Linked DNA regions of Homo sapiens: all the other regions are linked to region 1. Evidence: fine-mapped expression QTL. A gene starts in region 1. Each other region holds a variant in brackets. All regions are shown on one strand. Distances are between the middles of the regions.

Region 1 (8,191 bases):
GAAATCTCATCTAATGCCTAACATGACCTGGAAATCCCATACTTTACTAATAAAAAGCAGAAACTCAAAGTAGTTACGGGGCAAACATCAAATCACAGAGCGTCAAGTGGTTAAGAGGAAATCAGAGCCAGTTTTCTAACTTTGTCCATTATTTTTTTCGGTACACCACCCCATTTAAAATGTGGAAAATTCACTAGTGCTCTGTTCTCACTGGCCTCATGTAACTTTTAATTTCAAACCATTTCTGGATGCCTATGCTTCCTTCTGGTGCTTAATGAACTTGAAATGTCATCTAATGAGAGTGTTGTTAACCTCTGGCCCCAGGCTCTGATGACTCTTTCCAACCTCTTATTTTCCTTCCCCTTTAGAAATTATTATTCTATTATTACAGGATGTCTGGAAAATAAGAAAGAAGTCCAACTCCCACACATTACCATTCCTCAACCCTGGTTTTCCTTTCTTTTTTTTTTCCTTCGCTTTTCCTTCCATTCATTTCACAAACATTTATTGACAAATAAGTGTTGATAATTCCTGGCAAGCTAGGTATTTTGCTAATTGCTGGGAATAAAAGAAACACTAATTGAGTATCTAAACCTGCTGTTTGATCTTCCTACTTCTTTTCTATCTCATTTCCATTAACAGGGCTGATTTTCTCTTTGAATTATTTGAATTGCATTGCTAAAACACTTTGTTATTTCAAGCTAATACAGAAACAACCTTTTCACACATGCAATTGTCTTTTCCACCCATTTATCTCAATTAATGAGCAAGTTCATATGCATGCTGTTTACATTATCTTTCACCTTTTTTTTTGGCATTTGAGTCACTGTTTAATCTTTTAAAGTTCATTTATATACTCTAATCCACTGAATCAAAATTAACAATCTTTTTTAACTGGGCCTCAAGGTCCTAGTTTATTCATTATTATTCTGTTTAACTTTCTTAAAAATTAGCCCATTTATTTATCAAAACTCTGTAAACTATCAGTTGAAAGCCAAAACAGAACCATAGAAGTAAACACTGTATTTCTCTATCACACCAAAGTCAATCAAGAGTCATTCTTCTCTGTAACTCTGTTTGGTCTATGTTGTTTATGCAAGGGGCTTATCTTTCGTGTGGGGAAAGCAGGCCCAATATTCACACTACTTCCCTCAAATTTGAAAGTTTTCAGTGTTCCCTTGTCCTCTTCCAATTCTCATGTGCAATTCTTGACATGTCTCTATTTTGATAATAAAATCCCTGATCTAGATCTTGGTCATTTGGAACTTTGCCATACTGTAATAGTTTTTAAAGAGTGATTCTCATTTTATAACACTGACATCACTCATTTTTCAAGAGGAAACAAAAAACAAACAAAAGACAAATTTCAAATGATCAATTTTTGACCTATTTTAAGCCTGTAAGATCTAAAACTCTATGAATAAGATTAAACCATCCCATAAGTATTTGTAGTGAGTTATATGGTATGGGTAGGTATAGACAGAGAGAGAAAAAATTCTTTTTTTTAAATTATAATGTCCTTATGAAGAAAATGAAGTGATGTGCTATCTTTTACTAGGCCTTCTAGGAATCAGGCAGTCAGCTATAAGGGCCACCACTTTACTGCACTTATTTCTCATTCCAATAATGTAGAGTGTGGTGACATTGAAAGGAAGTGTTGAATAGTGTCTCTTTTAAGTAGTAATAACATCAGGAAACTCAATCTGGTCATGAAAATGGAAAAAAAAAGTATCGTGACACATTCTCTCTAAGGAAATGGCAGCTATTAGAAATGGAATGTGTTACATTTATGAGAAAGGGTCTTGTCTGAGAAGGTATACTGCTTCAGCACACACAGCAACAAATATTGTCATATATGAAGTATGATGCAGATGAAATAGCCCACGCTCCCATTTTATACCACGTTGTTCAGACATTTATTTATATACTGTAAAAATTCTGCATTCTACAATTAAATGACTTTGTAGAAGGCTTAGAGCAGACATACAAATCAATTAAGGGATTGCAAACATGCTGGAGAAATGTAAACATATTTTTTATATGTCAACTTAGGCTTTTTATATATTTAGTGAAAAGACCCACATAGAACTTGAAATAAGCTACAGCAACAATGATTTAGGCTAGATAGAAGAAAGGATGCCTGGGGGTGGTGCTGTAAAATTGCCTCTGAAAGTCATTGGTTGGGACAGTTTCATTATGATCATTTGAGTACAAGGATATAAATTAGAAAAGCTGTTTTCTAGCCCTATTTTTAAAGAAACATCAGATTAAAATTAATATAATTATTAGCATATGGATTGATTTTCTTGACATAAACATCAAATATAATAAAATAGTCATAAAGCAAGTTACTACTGTAAAGTGTTTATTGAAGGCATACTGATTTGATTTTTTTTTAAAGTTAGGATTTTTTTCCCCACATAATTAACATTGGTGACAGTTTTACCTTTTTTTTTTTTTTTTTTTAAATTAGAGGAACTGCAAATTTCTGTCTGCAAAGCACCCTTCTACTGGACATGTTCATACTTCATTATGCATAATTATTATGGGAGGGCAGGATGATGGGATAAAAAGGTATCTGAATTATGAATCAGGGCACTGTGGTTCTGCTGTCCTCTCTTCTATTAGCTAGAGGTGTGACCTTGGACAGGTCACTTTTAAATCCCATTTCTCAGCTTCTTGTAGACAACCTCAAGCCATTGTTAGAGGAGACCATCTCTTATGTTCTTTCCTTCTCTGAAATTCCATTTGGAGATTTTAATTAAATCATAATTTAGATAAGTCAGTATTTTATCTTCCACATATATAAAAAGTAGATTCTTTTTCTCATATTTAAGAAGTTTTAACACAAATTGTCAGTGAATAGTTAAAATTTATCAATATAAGTTATTCTAGCATAAAATTTGAGAATAGCTAATATAGCAGATGGTCACCTTGTACTATATAAAAACTTATAATGAAAACAGTTACTTCATTTCTTATGATCCAACTGTCAAAATAGCTCTCCATCTTTCACTTAGTATATTTTGTATTCATCTAATAGATTTGAAAATGTACATGAATATTTCTTCCCTTTATGTACCATTTTATTTCTATAAAATGATGAATTTTATTATAAATATTCAGAAATATAACAGTATCTTATGCATTATAAGTCCACACTTTTTCGGTCATTACTAAACTTCTTTTCTAATATATTGTACATTTAAACATTTAAGATTACCTTGAAGAGACTACAGTCAGGTGGAAATGTAATTTTACGATTACATAAGTAAGGACACAAACAGTTTCCATATGACTGGAGTGATTTCTGGCTGCCTTAAAAGAGTTATAATGAGTGTCAGTGTCATTGAGATTGACTTCAGTTATTCAAAATATTACACAAAATGTGACCGGAGCAAGCAGTGAATCCAGGAAAATTAATATAAACTAAATTCGATTCCGACATTTAAATTTCCAAAACTCAGATTAAATACTATTTAGGACAGAAATAATTCCTGAAATTTCACGTGTTTACTTTTTTTTTTTAAATGAACCTTTTAAGCTGTACAGGAGAAGCTTGACATATGATTGAAACTGGCTTGGGTAAAATAATAAGAAATTCAATCTTCGTAGTTTTAAATGAGACACAAAATACTCTTTGGAGACTGATTATTAAGCACAAGTCACTCGGGTGCTTTCTACTCTCCCTGTTGGCAAAGGAAGGTAGGGGAGGAATTCATTTACACCTCACACTGATGTGTGAGAAAATGTATTTGTTTCACGTTATGCCAAGAAATAGGAAAACTGATCCGACAGCTCAATTAATAAATAAGTTAAACGTAAAAAGGGATAAAAATAAAATCTTACTTTATGGAGGAAAAGAGTTAAATCTATATGGAGCCTGTTTTAGAACTGACAGTTTGCTAAAACGAATTGACTCAGAATTTTCTACTTATCAAACATTTTCCACTTCTGATTTTATGGCTTTGCTCTAAAACCTAGGAAGTCACCAACTCCGTGCAAGATGCTAACATTTATCTCAATCTTTCTGCCTCTTCAAAGACCGCCTCAAAGCATAAAGATAGTCCATAGCGTCTTACCTAGACAACGAGGAGCTGAAACGCCAAGGCATGACACTGCTCAACACTCAGGCTAGGAAAGAAGTCCGTCCCCGTTAGTTTCTCCAAAATCTAAGTTCCCATTTCGTGGTTGAGATCATGGCTCTATTCTGAGCAGTTTCACGCAGTGTGTGAGTCTAACAAAAACACCCTCTGCAGCTGGAGGGAGCCTTAGCTAAGGCAGGATCCTGTCAAGGCATTCCTAGTGACTTCTGTCTACTAAATTCAGACTGAGGTTTTGCAAAAGGGGCCTCCACAACCAGGCCCAGATTGCCTGGAAAGTATTTCCTGCCTCTGAGGAGTGTGCATGCTAGAAAGGCTGTACGAAGAGAGGGGAGGAGGGGAGAGCCCAGCCGCCTGGGCGTTTTAGGAGTTCTGATTTTACACAGAACTCAAGTGAGTTTTGTCAAAGCTCTTGAGGTGATTAGCTGTAGAGTCATAAAGTCCTAGAGCTTTTTCTATCCCACACTGCTTATGAAAAAAGAAAGAAAGAAAGAAAGAAAACGTAGTTTTCTCTCTATCCACAACCTTTCCACTATATTAAATGTATATGCACAGCTTAATCAAAATGCCTGTGCTTGCTCTCATTTCAAAAGATCTTTTAAGAGAGCAAGATGAATTTAGCCTTAATACCATAATTCTTCTAAATGGCAAAACCTTTTTTGAACATGACTTAAAATTGGAAATGCTGCAGCTTTTCATTCTGTCCCTGAGACCATCTGTAAGTAAAATCCCAAGCATCCAGTTAATAGAACGATTTCTTCCAGATCTCTCTGATCACAAGAATCCTTCACAGAATTAAAATAGTTCGTGTTATGGCAAATGCAGCAGCGCATTACCTCTAGTCAGAATCCTCCAGTTACAAAAATCCAGTGCTGGAGCAGAAGACAGGCTCCATCTTGATCGTATTAGAGTCTTGCTGACATTAAACACTTACAACTGCTTCCATCTAGCATGGCAGCGTTCCTGAATCACATCTCTAAAGCCGCTCATGGTATCTGCATCCTTCGTCCGTCACAAATTTTGTGAACTATCATCTGTTTATCTTTTCTGCTTTCTTGTGCCTCCCTTGAATGACTTCCTCCTAGCTGCTCCAGGTTGGGAATTTGGACTACCATTTGGTTTTGATTAAAACCAGACAGGCAACTCTGGAGAATTTAGGGAATAAGCTAATGGAAACTGCAAGTATGGCTTTAATTAGTGCATCAATTAATAATAGATGTTAGCTCGTCTTATAATAAGATATCACAAATACAAACACAGAGGAAGCTGAAGTCGTTTCAGGAAAAAAGTTACACCAATTTTCCTTCCTTTATGACCCAGAATCCTCTTTAGAGAATGTGGAAGGAAAGAAGAGGGAGGTGGTTTTGGGACATCCAGGCTGTGGAGAGGCCAGTAGAGCAGCTTCATTGTTTATACCAGGGAAGCAGGAAACAGCATCTCTGACTTTAATTATCTTGCTTGGTGGAAATGGCTCAGTCATGTCTCCCTTCTACTTTATTTACAATCAATGGATTTCGCTGCTATTTATGACTCAAGCATTTTTTTGGGGGGGGACTGATGATCAGATTAATTATTAGGTCTATCTGCTTCTTGCAAATTTCTAGAAGCTTTCAATAATAGGAAGTGCAAGAATAATTCCAGTTGGATGTGATAAAATGAGTAACATATAAAGAGGTAAAAGACATCTTAAACTTGTTGGCCCTAAGATCTATCCTGTTCTTCTCTGAAATTGTAAGTAGTTTTCATTGTTCACTGTTATTCTCCATCCCTGTATATCACAAGGGCTATCTTGTAGTACTTTTTGATAATATTGGGTAGGTGATAACTCAAAGATGCACAAGGTTCTAACTACTATTTTTTTCCTTATTAGGTAGCTAAAATCTCTCAAAGTTAATGCAAATCATGAACCATATTAGACCCATGTTAGATGGCAAGAATGACTTATACTGTGCATGAGTTTGAAGATGAGAAGTAGTCAAATAAAAACGTTTGGTCAGAAGCAGCTTTAAAAGTTTAGATCAAAGTCTTATTGACTAAAAACATGAGCATTTAGGTTTCTTTAATTTAATCTTCAACCATAGGCCAAGAAAGAAGTCTGTTCTTCCATAAATTCTTTAAAAAGTATTTATATTTATATTCAAAGTGTTTCTACTGACAGTATGCCTATTTAATCTTTCCAACAATTTTGCGTGTATTCATATGTTTTATTTTACAAATAAAGTATTGAGAAGCAATTTTCTCACAGTCAAATGATACAAAGTGCCCAGGTCCACACTGGAACTCAGATATTCTAGCTCCAAGCTTTGTGCTTTAATTTTTTCTCCATAAACTGCCTTCCTTGACTTCCACTTAATTTCTTTATTAAATTGGGAAGACTTCTTAAACTCTAATAGTTTCTCTTTAAAAATAGAGACAATTTCACATAACTTATAGATTGGAAAGCAGGATGAAATTTATATGCAGAAATATTTGTGTATTTATGTTTATTTCCCTAAGAAAAACACTGGAGAAGAAAGGAATGAGAACTGATATTATGTCTTTCCTAATATAACTTGATATCTCTATCTCTGTCACTGCCTTTAGTACTGATATACAGTGGTTACTCAATATTATATCAGCATCATGCTAATTCTTAGCTACATTTTATTCATGAATACTGTACCCCGCGCCATATACTTTAGTTTTGTTTCTATTTCTATTGGCTTGGGAAAACAAGAAAACTCTGTTCACAAATGCCTTTTAGATATCTAGAAACTCTTGTTAGTAAGTTTCTCATAAACATACCCTTTTCTACACAAAAAATACATTATGTTTTCTTCTATTAATAGGATTACTTCCCAAATCTTTAATTACTTATATTTATTTTTCATTGTTGAGTTGCTTGATTCCAAACAAATCTCAGATCTTATAGTCTTATAAAGGCTTTACCAAATATGAGTGTAAAGATAAATAGTGAGAAAACTTCCTAAGTACTTAGTATTGTGTCAGGAACACTGAAGGAGTTCAAAATATTTGTCCCCTTCTTTCTACTTGCAAATCTAAATACCAACTTCCTTAAATGTTTGACTGTTACTCTGTACTGGATCAGCTAATCAAATAAGGGGACAGGGACAGTTAAGAACTTGAAAACAAAGTATCAGGATAGGAGTCTGCTCCAAAACTAACAGCTTTTGTGACCTGTGTGAGTTACCTAACCGGGGTGAGGATGTCTTAGCTTCCATAACTAAGAATTGTCACAATGCAAAAAGCTAGTCCATATAAAGCCATTAGCTAGAATTATTTTTACCACTTAAATTATTGCCTTTTTTAATGTTTACATCTCTCTTTCAGGTATTTTTAGAATCTTTCTCTCTCTTCTATTGAACTCCAAGTTAAATGTATACATGTGAAACCGTTATAGTGGTGGAACAATTATGTACTCTGTGGAAAGAAGAATAGCAGGAGGTGGATTAAATGGTATTTTAAAGATCACCTTTCTTTTTTTTGTTTTTGTTTTTGTTTTTGAGACAGAGTCTGGCTCTGTTGCCCAGGCTGGAGTGCAGTGGTGGTGATCTCGGCTCAAGGCAACCTCCGCCTCCTAGGTTCAAGCAAATCTCCTGCCTCCATCTCCTGACTAGCTGGGATTACAGATGCACTCCACCACACTTGGCTAATTTCTGTATTTTTAGTAGAGACAGGGTTTCATCGTGTTGGCCAGGGTGGTCTTAAACTCCTGACCTCAAGTGATCTGCCTGCCTCGGCCTCCCAAAGTGCTGGGTTTAGAGGCGTGAGCCACTGTGCCTGGCCTAAAGATCTCTTTTCTACTTAGGTACTTTTACCTAAACAATAAACATTAGCTATGATCATTTATCTAGTCATTTCCCAATCATTTTCAGGAAAGTTGAATCTGGACTTCTGTACAGAATTATTCAGTGTCTCTCATGCAGTTCAAGAACATTTTATGTAAAGCAAGATCTATCCTTTGAAAATAGTGTTTTACTCTTTTATGAAATAAGTAGCAACATCATTAATTCAGTCACATTAGACATTTGTGATATTATGCGTGGAAGTCAGCTTTTATGTTTTCCATTTTTGTTAATGAATATGTT
Region 2 (8,191 bases), 270 kb before region 1:
TGCATCCAAGTCCTCTAAACGGCAAAGTAACACTGTGCAGAAATGTTTTCAGGGCTTTCAACAGGGACAAAGGATGCCGGTTGAGAATGTTGCTTTTATGGTGACCTCCCAGTTGGAGAGGTATTCTTCCATGGAGATCCTGCTGTTCTGTTAGGACACAAGAGGCATTAACACGCTGCTCACTATCTTTCAGGGGCCAATTAGCCAGTTTGGTATATCCAGACCCCGGGGTCCTTTCATTTCCTCTCTTAGCAGCTTGCCTTGTGGTCATTTACCATGCTTCATTAAGAGGGGGCAAAACTCAGATCTGCCCATTTGGCTCACGTTCAGAGCTTGGATGGAAGCTTTCTTGGGGGTGGCAGATGAAGCCATTAAAGGAAAATGTGGGGATTATCCATGGATTAGGATTATCTAACTCAGTGGTTTTTCAGCTCTTTTTAACTAGGAGGATCTCTTTTATAGGTAAAACACTCATGCACTCCAATATTACCATCGTTACACTGCTCGTATCTGTTGAGTAAGGCAGTAATGTCCTCATATAAACAGGTTGTTCATCTTGTCTTCTTAGTCCTCATTCTGTTCCTCTGCCAATTTCTCTAGGGAAGGCATCTTTCCTAGAGCATCAATACTCTGAATTTCTTGTGGTAATGAAGGTTGATAGGAGGAGTCTATATTTATTGTCTGTTGGAAACCATTTCTGACACACATAGATTGTTGAGATGTTTTAGAATAATGAATCCTAAACATCAAAGGAAAAGAAAAAAGAAAATATCTCCCCATCAGTTTTTTTTTTTTTCTCCTTGGAGACAAGGTCTCTCTCTGTTGCCCAGGCTGGAGTGCAGTGGCATGACCACAGCTCACTGCAGCCTTGACCTCCCGGGCTCAATGGATCCTCCCGCCTCAGTTTCCCAAGTAGTTGGGACTACAAGTGCATGCCACTACATCTGTACTTTTTTAATTTTTTGTACAGACAGAGTTTTGCCGTTTGCCCAGGCTGATCTTGAACTCCTGGGCTCAAGCGATTCTCCTACCTTGGCCTGTGAAAGTGCTGCGATTACAGGTGTGAGCCATTGTGCCTGGTCTCCTCAATAGGTTTACACAGGTGTTGCCATTGGAGAAGGCTTATATTTTCTTGCTTAGTGATGATTCAATGTGTGTGTAAATCAGAAGGAATTGAAATCAACTATGAGGGTGCCCAAGGTTATGGAAAATATTACTTTAACATTTTTAGCAATTTTTTTTTTACCAGTTTAGTGAGCAGGACTGATATGGTTTGATGCTGTGTCCCAAATCTCATGTCGAATTGTAATCCCCACATGTTAGAAGAGGGACCTGGTGGGATGTGATTGGATCATGGGGTGGATTTCCCCCTTGTTGTTCTCGTGATGGTGAGTGAGTTCTCATGAGGTCTGGTTGTTTAAAAGTGTGTAGCACTTTGGGAGGCCAAGGTGGGCAGATCGCTTGAGGTCAGGAGTTCAAGACCACCCTGGCCAACATGGCAAAAACCCATCTCTACTAAAAATACAAAAATTAGCCAAGCATGGTGGCACATGCCTGTAATCCCAGCTACTCGGGAGACTGAGGCAGGAAAATCACTTGAACCCAGGAGCTGGAGGTTGCAGTGAGCCAAGATCAAACCATTGCATTCCAGCCTGGGTGACAAGAGTGAGACTCTGTCTCAAAAAAAAAAAAAAAAAAAAAAAAAAGTGTGTAGCATTTCACTCTTTGTCTCTCTCCTGCCACCATGTGAAGATGTGCTTCCCCCTCACCTTCTGCCGTGATTGTGAGTTTCCTGAGGCCTCCCCAGCCATGCCTCCTGTACAGCCTGTGAAACTGAGTCAATTAAACCTCTTTTCTGTATAAATGTCCAGTCTCAGGTAGTTTTGTACAGCCATGTGAGAAAAATTAGAGACCTAGGGTTAGAATTTTAGAGTACAAGGAAAGGGTTTGTTAACAATAGGAACAATGATGAAGACTTGCATGACACTAACAGAGCATATTTTCTTCTTTTTTTCTAGATCTTTGTTTCTCTTTGTCACTGTTGTACTAAAAATTGTCATCAGTATTTGAGTTCCACTTTCTCTCAAGAGATAACTTTGTCTTCCTTATCATCAAGAAAATTGAGGTCATCAGCTGCGAACAACATCAAGTTACTAGCAACATCTGCATTCCAAGGGCCAAAAGAGCTGCTCTCTGTCTTTCCATGTATTCTTGGACAATCTCATTCTCTTCCTATTTGTTGATGACTCCGTAATTGGTATCTTTTGACTGTCCCTCTCTCTTAAGTTTAGACTCATATATGCACCTGTCCTGGGGTTGTGTATCTGTGGAGGTCACAGGCACCTCATACTCACTCTTTTCCTCTGTAACCTGCTTCTCTTAGGAAATTCCTCACCTGGGGGAACCACCATTCCTTCAAGCACCCAAGGTAGGAACCTGGTGTGAAGCTTGACTTCTCCCTTTCCTGTGCTTCACACACTTGAGTAATCCCCAGGCACTAATTATTTTACTTTCTAAATATTTTTCAAACCCATTCCCTACTGTTTAGCTATACTTCCTTCCTTCAGGCTATGATAATCTTTCTCTTAGATACTTACAGTGACTTTTAAGGACCCTCCATTGCCTAAAAATCAGATCTCTGCCTGTCAGTATGATATTCAAGATTTTTCATGATCTTCCCTTTCCAATTTTTTTTTTTTTTTTTTGAGACAGGATCTCACTCTGTTGTTCAGACTGGAGTGCAGTGGTGCGATCATAGTTCACTGCAGCCTCGAACTCTGGGACTCAAGTGATCCTCTCTTCTCAGCCTCCAGAGTGGCTGGGACTACAGGTGTGCAGCACTATGCCTGGCTACCTTTTTAATTGTTTTATAGAGATGGGGTCTTGTTATGTTGCACGGGCTGGTCTCAAACTCCTGGCCTAAAGTGATCCTCCCACTTCAGTCTCCCAAAGTGCTGGGATTACAGGCATGAGCCACCACTCTTGGCCTCCTTTCCACATTTATCTGCCACTCTCCTCCTCCCACTTTACCAAATTGCACACACCAAGAGATTGCTTTTATTCCTTCCACTTAAAAATCTCTTCCCTACGTTTCTTCATCTGATGGACTCTCACCCACCTTTCCTGAATCTCCTGGCCAAGATAAACATGCCCCTCTACTGTGATCCAATTATAGTTTCGACATATTTGTTTCTTATCACCTGTATGTTATAGTATATTGTAATTGTCTGTTAATTCATATTCCCTCTCACACCTCTTCACTCACTTTAACCATTCCAGGCAAGAAGGAAGACGGTTGCTTATACTATGCCAACATTTTGTTGTTCTTGTTTTTGTTTCTAGAACAAATGCTGGAAATTCTTTGACATAACTTCCTTCAAGAGTTGAGCTTTATTTTTTTCCACCCCTTATGTTAA[G/A]GCAGGAGTATCACTTGCTTGTAACCAACAGAATGTAGCTGTGTGATTTCTAAGGTTAGGTCAAAGAAGTGATGCCAGTTTTTCTTGTTCCCTGGGACGTTTGTTTTGGGGGCCTTGTTTTAAGAGGTCTGACTGCCCTGAGGTGGCCACACTGTGAGGAAGCCCAGGCTATAGGAAGAGGCCAGGTGTAGGTGCTCCGTTGAGGCCCCACTGGGGTGTCTGCATCAACCAGCAGGCACTAAAGACACCTCTATGTGATTCTGGCCTCTAGCTGTCTTGCAACCCTAGCCTTTGAAACTCTCCTGGCCAATATCCCGGACATTGTGTAGCAGAGGCACTCTGTGCCTATCCCAATTCTGACCCACAGAAGCTGTGAGCACAATAAGTGGTTGTTTTACACCACTAGGTTTTGAGGTGGTTTTGCAGCAATAGTAAAACAATGCACAGCCGCAGCAGAAATCTGCTCATTAACCCTTTATTGGCTCTTCCTCTCACCCTCTCATTCTTCCTTGTGCCTCCTGGGAACACATTCTAAATGAGCTACCTCCACCTGAATCTTTGTCTCAGGGACTTTTCTTTAGGGAAATCCACGTTAAGATACTGTACCACTCCCATCATCAGAAATTGTTTAGATAAATGCAAACTTTTAAAATTTTTTTATTATTTTATTATTTCTTATTTTATTTGTTTTTTGAGACAGAGCTCACTCTGTCACCCAGGCTGGAGTGCAGTGGCATGATCTCAGCTCACTACAACCTCAGCTCCCTGGGTTCAAGCGATTCTCTTGCCTCAGCCTCCCATGTAGCTGGGATTACAGGTGCCCACCACCACTCCCGGCTAATTTTTTGTATTTTTAGTAGAGATGCAGTTTCACCATGTTGGACAGGCTGGTCTTGAACTCCTGACCTCAAGTGATTCACCCGCCTCAACCCCTCAAAGTGCTGGGATTACAGGTGTTAGACACCATGCCCAGCCACAAACTATTTTAAAATGCTTTAAACAAGAACACTTTAAACAAGCTGAAGAAAAGTATAAAACATGAACCAGGGTGGTGGTCCTGAGACAACATAATATTACAGAAGGCAATGGGGCTGACTTAGAGAGTCCAGCAACACTTCCACCTAGAACTGAGAAGAGTTTTAGAGGCTGTTTGCAATAATGGCGAGTTAAAGGCAGGAAGGAATTGAATTAAATACACATTTTTATTTATGGAATATTTTTCATTTGGAGGAAAATTACTTTGATTTTAAAAGTCAGAAAGCACGTCTTTTAAATATCTTACACTTCTTTTATTTTATAAGATTGCCAGGTAACTGTTCAGATGAGATTGATTGGCCCAAAAGAAAATTAGGCATTAAGGTGTCAATGATGATACTATTAGTGTAGTGTGAAGTTATTAATGTTTCAACATATAGAGTGGTTTTCTTTTTTCTGCGTAGATTCACTCATGTGGCATTCTTACGGAGAGAGAAGGAGAGAGTATGACTGTGTGTGTGTATGTGTGATCATCTGAAATAGAATTTGATGCTCAGAAAGCATTTGAAAATGAAGAGTTCACAGCAATTCATATCAATGCAGTTTCTCATCAGGTTCATAATAAAGATACCTACAAAGGTATAGTACGACAAATGCTTTTTTTTTTTTCTACGCGACCACATTCCATCACCTGACACCCACTTGCATGCCATTGCTTCACTAACATCTTTATCACATTTATCTGAGTTCCTATTTAACTATCTGGAGATAGTCTACAGAGTAGGGCTGTCACCCAGGATCTAGCAGAGGATCTGAGACATATTTCTAATATTTGTTGAATGAATAAAGCAGTATCATAAGGCCAATGCACCCCATCATTTAGATCATAAATACTGTTCATGCTTGTTTTGTTGTCAGTAGAGTGCCCCACCTAGAAGTGACCCTGGATTGCAAAACTGTAATGAGCAAAACCCAGACTGAGTGTCTCTCTTAAATACAGGCAGAAACAGACTCCTCTGTTAACAAGAATGCCATCCTGTGCTCTCAACCACATTGTAAGGAGCGTCACCTATTGCCCAGAAAGAAATAAGCTGCTTTTTATAAGTATTTAGTGCATGGCCACTGAAAATATTAGAGACAAAAGGCAAAAATATTGCTGAAATGATGGCAAGAATTCATTGGTTGGATGCCAAGTAAAAGTCAGTTCCAGTTGTTCCATTAGCAGTGAAAACTTCAGACACTGCCAGACATTACTATCTGCTTGTGCAATTTGGCACAGTTGTTACTAGGTCAGAAGTACAATTGCAAAACTAGTACAGCCAACACTTTGCAAAGCAGTATCAACTATAGAAGACACAATACCTTTCAAAGAGTGGCATGCTCTATGCAATTATGGTAGTTGTTAACAATTATTTAGGACTTCCAGTGTGCCAGGCAGCATTCTAAGTGCTTTATTTTTAGTGACTCATTTAATTCTTGCAACAACCTCATGAGACAGATGTATTCATATCCTTTCCATTTTACAGGTGAGGACACCAAAGCCCAGAGAGGTTAAGTATCCTGCCCATAATTCCCTACATTCTAAGCACAGAATGGAGATCTAAATCCCACAGGTTTATCTCCAAGATCCATGCTCTCAATTGTCGCATGATACCGTTTCCCATAACCACTATGCTTAACTGCCCTAACACCATGCAAATGCCTGTCTTTGAAGATATGTGGAAAATATGATCAAACAAGTGCAAAAAATAGAACTGCTTTATCTTCCAGGCTGATTATCATAGACTTGAGGCTCACCATCGTGCTACAAGAATTTCCTAACCAAACCATGTGATATTTTACTAATATTATAGCTGGCCCCATAGTGCTATCCATAACCGCTCAAAGTTAAAAGCATTTTTCAGTTCTATATTCATTTTAATGGGATGTTGTTTACAGTGAGTCTAATAAACAATATGTAAATGATTAGCTGTAGTTTTACAGCTTGAAACCATGCATCGGCTGTCTACAATGTTTAGTTACAAAACACAGTGCAAGTTATTTGGAACTGAAGCTCCAGGAAAGCAGGCACCTGGTTAGTCTCAGTCCTCAGTGTGCTTTTGCACAGGGAAGCTGCCCAGTTGTTAAATGAACCACTTCCTTGTGATGTTGTCCAGCACTCCTTTGCTCCTGTTTCTTTGCTCCCCTTCTCTTCCCAGCCCCTTTCTCTGTACCATTGACATCATATTTAATTGATAACACACTCTCTTATATCCACAGTTTTTGCAGCAGCTTCTGCACCTGTTGGTCCTATTGGAGACTTGGCTTCCCCCTTAGCAAACCTCTTTTCCTGAAGCCTCATTTTGCTTCCATATTCTATTAGGTTAGTTGCAGGAAGAAAGACTCTCTGACTCTGAGAAAGACTCTCTGACTCTGAGCTGTTTCCCAATCCTTATTCTCCCAACTCTTTTGAAGTGAGGCCGTCAAGTTCATGTCAATCCAATCCCCAGTTACTCCCCCTTATTTATTAAAGATTCTAGCCTTTTGTTCATATACTTCCCTTTAACTCCAACCTTGGCAGCCTCACCGTGGGAGGCAAAGTCTCTGCGGACACCCCCCACATGGTGTAACCCTGCAATTCCAGCACCATCACTGAGCAGCAGTCTGGATCTTTTTATCCCCTGGGGTGCTTCCTTCAGAAGTCCTCAACCCTGAAAACGCATTCTGATCTCATCCTTCCATCCCATGTCTCCCTCTCCACAGCTGGGTGGAGCCAGTCTTTTACTCTTGAACACGCATTCTCCATTCCCTGGTATCCTGGCTTCTCAATATCTTCAACCAGGAAAACCTCCACATTGAATTAAAGCTGCAATTCACCTTTTTTTTCCCTCCCTGGGATGACTAATTACCACTGTAGAAACTTCCACAGCTTTGCAGATAGAAATCATTACCAATTGGAACTCCCAAACCTCAGAGGGGCTATTTTACTCATTTACTCCCTAACCTCAGAGGGGTATTTTACTCATTCTTAGACTCCTCACTTTCCATTCCTCAGTGATGCCTCTAAACTTTCCCCACTCATCTCAAACCTTCGTTTTTCTTTTTTTTCCTTTGAGACAAAGTCTCGCTCTTGTTGCCCAGGCTGGAGTGCAATGGCGCGATCTTCGCTCACTGCAACCTCTGCCTCCTGGGTTCAAGCGGTTCTCCTGCCTCAGCCTCCTGAGTAGCTGGGATTACAGGCACCTGCAACCACATCTGACTATTTGTTTTGTATTTTTAGTAGAGACGAGTTTCACCATGTCGGCCAGGCTGGTCTCCAACTCTTGACTTCAGGCAATCCACCCGCCTCAGCCTCTCAAAGTGCTGGGATTACAAGTGTGAGCCACCACGTCCGGCCACCCTGACTCATTTTCAGCAGACTGTATTGTCTCCACTGCATTAAGAGAGTTGAGACTATTGGTATCCTCTATCTCAGCTTCCAGGCACTCCTTGTCATGGTACCCACTGCCACCGTGATCCCATTTCTATCAGTCTCAGGGTGGTTCCTCCTCCTAGCCAAGGCTCTCTTCACTTGTGCCTTTCACACAGTCTTCTGAATTAGTGATTCAACAATTTTCTTATTCCTTTCTCAGACTTCCAACCTATTTCTTCCTTTCTCTCTCTTTCTCTTTCTGTCTTCTCTTTTACAGCAACGTTCCCTCTGCTTAAATACATGCTAAAGTCTCTTCCATCCTGATTAAGAAACAACCCAAACCAAAATCACAAGAACAACAATGAACAGAAAACCACAACATACCATAAACCCATCCTTTCCCATCCTA
Region 3 (8,191 bases), 300 kb before region 1:
CTCCTATTTGCTTGGTCTGAAGGACCTTGCAGCTTTGCACTGTCAAACATGACCTGTGGTCTGTGCTGACTGTTGGTATCTCAGGTTTCTCTTATCATTGGTGAAACTGGCATATTGTCACATCTTACTGAAGAGCTGTCCCCCGGCCCCAACCCCACCTTTTTTTTTTTTTTTTTGTGGCTGCCCGAGGAAATTGGAGTGCAGTGTTCTGCCAGGCACACACCGGCCTAGGTGATGTTTTCTTCTCCAGCAACATGGAAAAGCCTCTTCTGGGGAAAGGTGTAAGGAGACAAACCAATTGCCACTTCCGAGTTGGAAAAATTGGATCCCTTTGTGCTCTTATCTTCATCCACTTCCAACTTTACTGATTTTACCGCTGCTGGGTTCCAGGGGAGGTAAAAAGGAGAGGAGAAAATGATTGATTTGAGTGCTGGTGGCAATCAATGAGTGGCAATAGATGGGTCTCATGACAGGGCTTTTGTAAGCGCCTTGCTCCATGACTGGGAATAAGATATTGTCAAACTCAGCACCACAAAATGCACACAGTGCCCATTTAACCACGTAACCATCCAGGAGGAGTACACACACAATATGTGCCTCTTATTAATTCATTTGTTCATTTATTCATTCGGCAAATAATTATAGAGGCTACCATGTGCTGGGCAGTGTTCTAAGCAAAGGATTATAACCATGAACAAAACAGCCCCAAATCCCTGCCCTTTGGAAGCTTACATGCTAACGGAGCCTACTTTCTACATTCTCTATATCCTTACGATAGAGTAAAACTATTAGATCATTTCCCAAACGTCTTACAAAAAAATAATTTTAACAAAAAAAATTAATAAAAGTAGTTATCTGCCTAGGTACCAGGCTGAAAGACTCTGAATTTAAATATTAAATGTGAAGGCTGGGCACAGTGGCTCACGCCTGTAATCCCAACATTTTGGGAGGCCGAGGTGCGTGGATCACTTGTGGTCAGGAGTTTGAGACCAGCCTGGCCAACATGGTGAAACCCCATCTCTACTAAAAATACAAAAATTAGCTGGGCGTGGTGGGGCACGTCTATAGTCACAGCTACTTGGGAGGCTGAGGCAGCAGGATCACTTGAGCCCAGAAGGCAGAAGTTTCAGTTAGCCAAGATCACGCCACTGCACTCCAGCTTGGGTGACAGAGAAGACCCTATCTCAAAAAACAAAAACAAATATTAAATGTGAAAAAAATTCAAACAAAGAGCTAGAAAGTACATCCTACTAGGGAAGCAAACTTTAAAACATACTACTATTGTAGAACTATTGAAGGTGAGACATATTCAGGGAAACTTCATAATCCATATTTTCTTAAGATTCTGTGTTGATTATTTATAAAATATTAAACACCCAGTCTTAGAAACCACATATATTTTTCACTCGTAATCTTTCGCATTAGATAGGACTAGTGCGCAAGCCCGTGGAGTAATCTACTGATTTTTCTGTCTACCTCTACAAAAGGCTACAACTCGTCTCCCCAGTGTGCCCTGCTGGGAGTGGCTGCTCGAATCCATTTAGTGCCCACCAGATCCCTCTTACCCACTCATGGTGTTTCCCCAGAAAAGTTTCCTAGGTGATTTTTCTAACTCCATTCTCTCGCAGTTCCCATCTTTCCTACACATTGCATCAAAGTGAACCTTCCGAAGAGTCACTGTCCTCTTATTGCTGTCCTGTTCCAGATGGTCTCATCAGACCCAGTTTCCTCTCCTTGCCAGCCTTCCACACTCTGGCACCAACTCAGTTTAGCAACAAACACAACAATAAAGTCAACAATAATACTTTGTATTTTCAGTGATGAATTATTTTACACCAAAGGTCTCATTTGATACTCAAAACTTAGAAAGAGTCAAAGTTGTTACAATTATTTTCATTTGACAGAGGACTATATTGAAGTTGAGAAAACTCACATGATTTGTTCAAAGCCACCCAGCTGCCAGGTAGAAGGATCAGGTTTAAAATCCAGTTCTTCTGAGTTGCAGATCACCTCTCTAGTCACTGCTTCCTTTCATGACACACTCTACTCCAAGGGGCTCAAGTCCATTTCTAGTTCCACTCCTTGCCACACTCCTCCCCAACTGGCAGCACTCTTATTGCCCATTTTACCCCATCCCTCTACCCAGCAGAACGTGCCAAGACTTCATAGTCTGCCTAAGGGTCCTTTCCTTCGTGTCATTTCCCCTGAGAGCTCCAGCATGCAATCACCTCCTCTTTCTCTGAAATACTTCCCTTAGCAATGGTTTAGCCCAGGGTTTCTCAACCTCAGGACTATGTACAGTTTGTGTCAACTGATTCTTTGTTGTGGGGGTCTGTCCTGTGCATTATAGGACATTTAGTGGCATCCCTGGGCCTCTATCTAGTAGACACTAGTAGTACCCCCAGCTGTGATAATCAAAAATATCTCTAGACATTGCCAAATGTTCCATGGGAAACCAAACCAAATTACCTCTGGTTTTGAACCACTGGCTTAACCTGTAATTGTTCTCTAATTGGGTGATGTGGGACAGGTGTGCCTCCCCTGAAACTTGAGGCTGTGGGCAGCATGTTTGTCTTTTGCTTGTGTCCTTGAAGGTGTTCTGTGCACAATAAAGAACTGAATATAGGTTGTGAATCTAAGCCCCACTTCCTAGTTTCAAATTGGAGCCAGCAATCACATCTTAATACTCCTGGTTAATTTTGAGTTGTACAGTACAGTAAATAAAAACCTAAGTTCTAAAATTTAAAGAAATGGATATAAACATCAGTTCTCTTACTATTTGTATAGCTGTGAGATGCTTGCTTTTCCATTTGTCTATGCCAGTGTTATCCAATAGAAATATAATACAAGACACATTAAAAGAGTAAAAAGAACCAAATCACGTTTGTGACTTTATTACTTAATCTAATGTATAAAATATCATTTTACAACGTTATTAATATCAACAATTCATGAAGGATGTGTGTGGCATTCTTCTCTTTGTACTAAGTTGTGCATTTCCTCTTATAACATGTCTCACTAGAATGATCTGCATCTGAGCCACTCAATAGCCATGTTATGTCTAATGGTTACTAAATGCATTGGCTTCCCCCATTAGGCTGTGAACATTTTGAGGGAAGAGACTCTGTCATATTCATTTATAATTAAAAACAACTGGCTGGCATGGTGGCTCACGCCTGAAATCCCAGCACTTTGGGAGGCTGAGGAGGGCGGATTATGAGGTCAGGAGATCGAGACCATCCTGGCTAACATGGTGAAACTCTGTCTCTACTAAAAATACAAAAAAAAAATTAGCCGGGCGTGGTGGTGGGCACCTGTAGTCCCAGCTACTTGGGAGGCTGAGGCAGGAGAATTGCTTGAACCTGGGAGGCAGAGATTGCGGTGAGCCGAGATCACGCCACTGCACGCCGGCCTGAGTGACAGAGTGAGACTCCATTTCAAAAAAAAAACA[AC/A]AACAAAAAAAAACCAACCAACTAAAAGTTGTTCTTTAAATAAAATACTCTGATTTTCTTGGGTCAAGGGCTTGCGTCCTCTTTGATTCCTTTTTGCTCACTCTGGGAACCATTTTAGCCCTTACATAAAATACCAGAAACATGACAGAAGCCAGTCCCCTCCCTTGAATGGAGTCCTCTCTACTTGTAGAAATAAGACATACATGTATCAAATCACAACAAAAAGCAATATATAATAATTAACTAAAATGCTATCCACTAGAAAGTTTCAAAATCAATGGGTGATGGAAAGAACAGTCTCTTCAACAAATGGTGCTGGGACAACTGACTAGCCACATGCAAATTAATAAACTAGGATCCTTACCTTACACCGTATACAAAAATTAACTAAAAATGGATTGAAGGCCTATGTTTAAGAGCTAAAACTATAAAACTCCTAGAAGAAAGCATAGATGAAAATGTCCATGATACTGAATTTGGCAATGCTGTCTTAGATATGACACCAAAAGCATGAACAACAAAAGAAGGATAAGCTGGACTTCATCAAAATTAAAGGCTTTTGTGCGTCAAAGGAAACTGTTGATAAAGAGACAACCCAAATAATAAGAGAAAAAATTTACAAATCAGTAGACATTTTCCAAAGATGATAATGCCTAACATACATGAAAAGATGCTCAGGGTTACTAGCCATTAGGGAATTGCAAATCAAAACTACAGTGATGTAATGCTTCACACACACTAGGACAGCTATCATAATTTGAGAAAAGGAAAATCACAAGTATTGGTGAGGAGGTAGAGAAACTGGTTCACGCATTGCTAATGGGAATGTAAAAATGATGAAGTCTTTTGAAATAGTTTGGCAGTTTCTTAATAAGTTAAATATATAATTATCATATGACCCACCAATTCTATTCATGTTTATATATTTTATATATAATATAAATATATATCATAATTATATTCATAATTATATGAATATAACTATATATGAATATAATTATATAATTATATATGAATATAATTATATAATTATATATGAATATATATAATTACATACGAATATATAATTATATAATTACGTACGAATATGATTATATAATTATATACGTATATAATTATATACGTATATAACTATATAATTATATACGAATATAATTATATAATTATATACGTATATAATTATGTGAATATAATTATATACGAATATAATTACGTGAATATAATTATATAATTATATGTGAATGTAATTATATAATTATATGTGAATATAATTATATAATTATATGTGAATATAATTATATAATTATATGAATATAACTATATAATTATATGAATATAACTATATAAGAATATAATTATATAATTATAATATGAATATAATTATATAATGATATTCTTGAATATGAATATAACTATATAATTATAATATGAATATAATTATATAGTTATATTCTTAAATATGAATAGTTATATTCATATAATTATAATTATATAAATCATATAGTTATATAATTCATATACTTATATAATTATATTTCATATAATTATACTTATATAATTCATATAATTATACTTATATAATTATAATTTATAAAATATATAAACAGGAATAGAATTGCTGGGTCATATGATAATTATATATTTAACTTACTAAGAAACTGCCAAATTATCTTAAATATATATACATTTATATTTATACATCTAAATTCTGACTCAAATTCAAATTTCCTTCGTGCTCAGAAGCCCACCTTCTTCAAAAAAGCCTTCACTAATTCCTTGGAGATATTTTTGGAGATATCTATATATCTATATCTATATCTCCAAGAATTGTATTGAAAAAATAAAATATGGGTCTTCAAACAAAAACTTGTATAAGAATGTTCATTGCAGCACTATTTATAGCAACCAAAAGTGGAAGCATTCTGAATCGTTATTAATGGGTGGATAAATTAAATGAGGTATGTCCATCCAATGGATTATTATTCAGCTGTAAAAAGGAATGAAGTACTGATACATGCTACACACATGGATGAATTGAGACCATTATAGCAAGTAAAAACAATGCGACACAGAAGGCTACATACTGTCTTAATTCCACTACATGAACTATCGAGAATAGATAAATCCGTAGACACAGAAAGCAGATTAGTGGTTTCTAGGGCCTGGGAAGAGGAGGGGTTGGCGGGAGTGACTGCTCAATGGGTACAGGGGTTTCCTTCTGGGGCGATTAAAATGTTCTGGAAGTAGATAATGGTGATGGTTGTACAACATTGTAAATATACAAAATGCCCTTGGATTGTACATTTTAAAATGATTAAAATGGTGAATTTTATGCTATGTATATTTTACCACAATAACATTGAGTCATTTTGGTCTCTGGGAAGGCAAGGGAAATTGTGAAGCCTTTTTTGAAGAAGGTGGGCTTCTGAGAACAAAGGAAATTTGAATTTGAATCCGAATTTGAATTTGCAGCAAAGGATAAAGGTGCCCCACGTAAAGGTAAAGATAGAAACTTGAGCAGCCTGGCTTGTGTAACAAGTGGGGATCAGGTGGAATTGTTGAGGAATGTCTCTTTAGAGTCTACAAATTTGATCGAAGTAAGGATTAATTTAAAGCACAAAATATATTTTCAGCAGAGACCAAATGTTCCCCAACTATTAAATTTAACTATCAATAAGTAAACACATCAAGTAGAACATTATATTCTTGATATTATTATTAAATACTATTTTCCTGTGCCTTTAAGAAAAGAAGCAGACACTCCTTGGGATCACTCACAGCTCAATTTTTATGGCATTTGTTTTACAAATACTGCGTTACTGTGGAGGAAAGAAGTGGGGACATGCACAGCATATTTATTTTTTCTATATCCAAAGTAAATCCATACATCATTACTTTAGGAACTAAATATGTATAATTTGCCTTGGATTTATTACAGCATCAAAGTGCAACTGGAAATATACGGAGTTTGAAATTAGAATTGTCAACTGTTCACATGGAGATCAATAGCCTTGGAAAGGGTGACTGTGGGCCCTGCCAGGCAAGCTCAGTGACAGCCTCACAGCCAGTCAAGAATGTCAGCAAGACAGGCTGTGGGCAGAGTGATGAAATGCAGCCCCACGTATGAGGGTGTTAGGTGATCACATTTTAAATTTAATGGTGTAGGCTTCTGCCAAGGGGGTACTAGAGGTTACTCCAGTGCACAATAAAATAAAGGGAATATCTTTTGAGTCTTCAGTTTTTAGCCACTTTCAACTCATTGGGTTTTCTCAGCCTTAAACTAAGGTCATTAGCTTTCACAAGTTCTCCCTACAAACAAAACAAATGCTGGGTGTCACCACCGCATTCTTTCCATGGGGGATGTTAGACACCACTGACCCGGATGATTACGCAGACAGCACACCCAAATAGAGACATCTAGATTGGGAAGAGCCCTCAAAAGCTGGCTGACAACCAGGATCCCTGCTCACGGGCCTATTTTACTCAACAGGAAAAATTGCTTCCAAAGGTTTTCTTTTCTTTTTTTTTTTTTTGTTTTGAGACGGAGCCTTGCTCTGTCACCCAGGCTGGAGTGCAGTGGTGCAATCTCAGCTCACTGCACCTTCCAACTCCTGGGTTCAAGCTATTCTCCTGTCTCAGCCTCCTGAGTAGCTGGGACTACAGGCATGCACCACCACGCCCAGCTAACTTTTGTATTTTTAGTAGAGATGAGGTTTCACCATGTTGACCAGGCTGATCTTGAACCCCTGACCTCAAGTGATCTGCCCTCCTTGGCCTCCCAAAGTGCTGGGATTACGGGTGTGAGCCACCATGCCTGGCCCCAAAGATTTTGTGTGTGTGTGTGTGTATATGTGTGTGTATATGTGTGTGTGTGTGTATATATATATATATATATGATAAACCATTATATATAATATTAATATATTAATATAAAACACATCAATATATTAATATAAAATACATATATTATAAAATACATCAAAATATTAATATAAAATATATTAATATATTAATAAAATATATTAATACATTAATATATAATTATATATTAAAATATATATTAGTATATAAAAAGTTATATATAATATATAAATTATCTATATTTTATATAACATATATAATTAATTATATATTATATAATATATAATATTATAAACCATTGCCAAGTGAGAAGTTAAACTTAGCTGTTCTAAGAACAAAGGTTGAAATTCTGACTTCTAAGAAGACCTCTGTATTATTTTCATCAATTCATGTGTATTTGGCAAACTTTGGTGTTCATGTTTCTGTGTAACAGAATATATTACAGAGAGGTATTTCACATCAAGAAATGTAGGGCCACTCCAAAAGCATTATTTATGTAAAATCATTTAATCACTCACTTTTTGCTATCATAAGTGAGAAAAGAGATAGAGAAACCCACATTTTCAATTCCTTCAGATTATGGTAGAAAAATGAAGCCTGTAACAGTGCTGTCAATAGATTATTCTGTATTGGATTTTGAGCTATTCTGCTAAAAGTGTTTGAGACATTACATTCCATGTCAGTATTTCATTGATTATACTGATGTTTTGTTTTATGTAGGTTAGACACATCCTTTAAAAGCTAAGTAACATATTATGTTTTTTTCTTTTGATTTTCCTCTTGGAAACCTTGCTGTGTGATTGCTTCTCTGTCAGAAGTTCTCACATTCTGTTTGCTAAAATTTCAAAACTGTCTCCCAAATCTAAGCATGACCTGGT

Alleles and levels. Alleles are on the strand shown, and positions count from the first base shown. SD is a standard deviation of normalised expression in the study named. Not every link is listed here.
For the expression in monocytes after Pam3CSK4 of the gene that starts at base 4,332 in region 1, allele A in region 3 goes with a higher level than allele AC (large effect, 1.2 SD a copy in Quach 2016).

The links. PIP is the estimated chance that this variant, and not a neighbour inherited with it, causes the effect.
Region 2: its variant is the best candidate, but not a certain one, in a credible set for the expression of DLC1 in monocytes (TOPMed, PIP 0.69).
Region 3: its variant is the best candidate, but not a certain one, in a credible set for the expression of DLC1 in monocytes after Pam3CSK4 (Quach 2016, PIP 0.70).

What each region holds. Positions count from the first base shown.
Region 1 is chr8:13,510,520-13,518,710 of GRCh38, forward strand. It overlaps DLC1 (DLC1 Rho GTPase activating protein), which reads right to left and starts at 4,332. Exons shown (of 18, transcript NM_182643.3): 1 at 4,083-4,332.
Region 2 is chr8:13,241,611-13,249,801 of GRCh38, forward strand. The region is part of intron 5 of DLC1 (DLC1 Rho GTPase activating protein); the gene reads right to left. Among named protein-coding and RNA genes, the nearest start is that of DLC1, 270 kb to the right of the region's middle. The variant G/A (reference allele first, on the strand shown) is at 3,417.
Region 3 is chr8:13,214,399-13,222,589 of GRCh38, forward strand. All of the region lies in intron 5 of DLC1 (DLC1 Rho GTPase activating protein), which reads right to left. Among named protein-coding and RNA genes, the nearest start is that of TRMT9B, 270 kb to the left of the region's middle. The variant AC/A (reference allele first, on the strand shown) is at 3,452.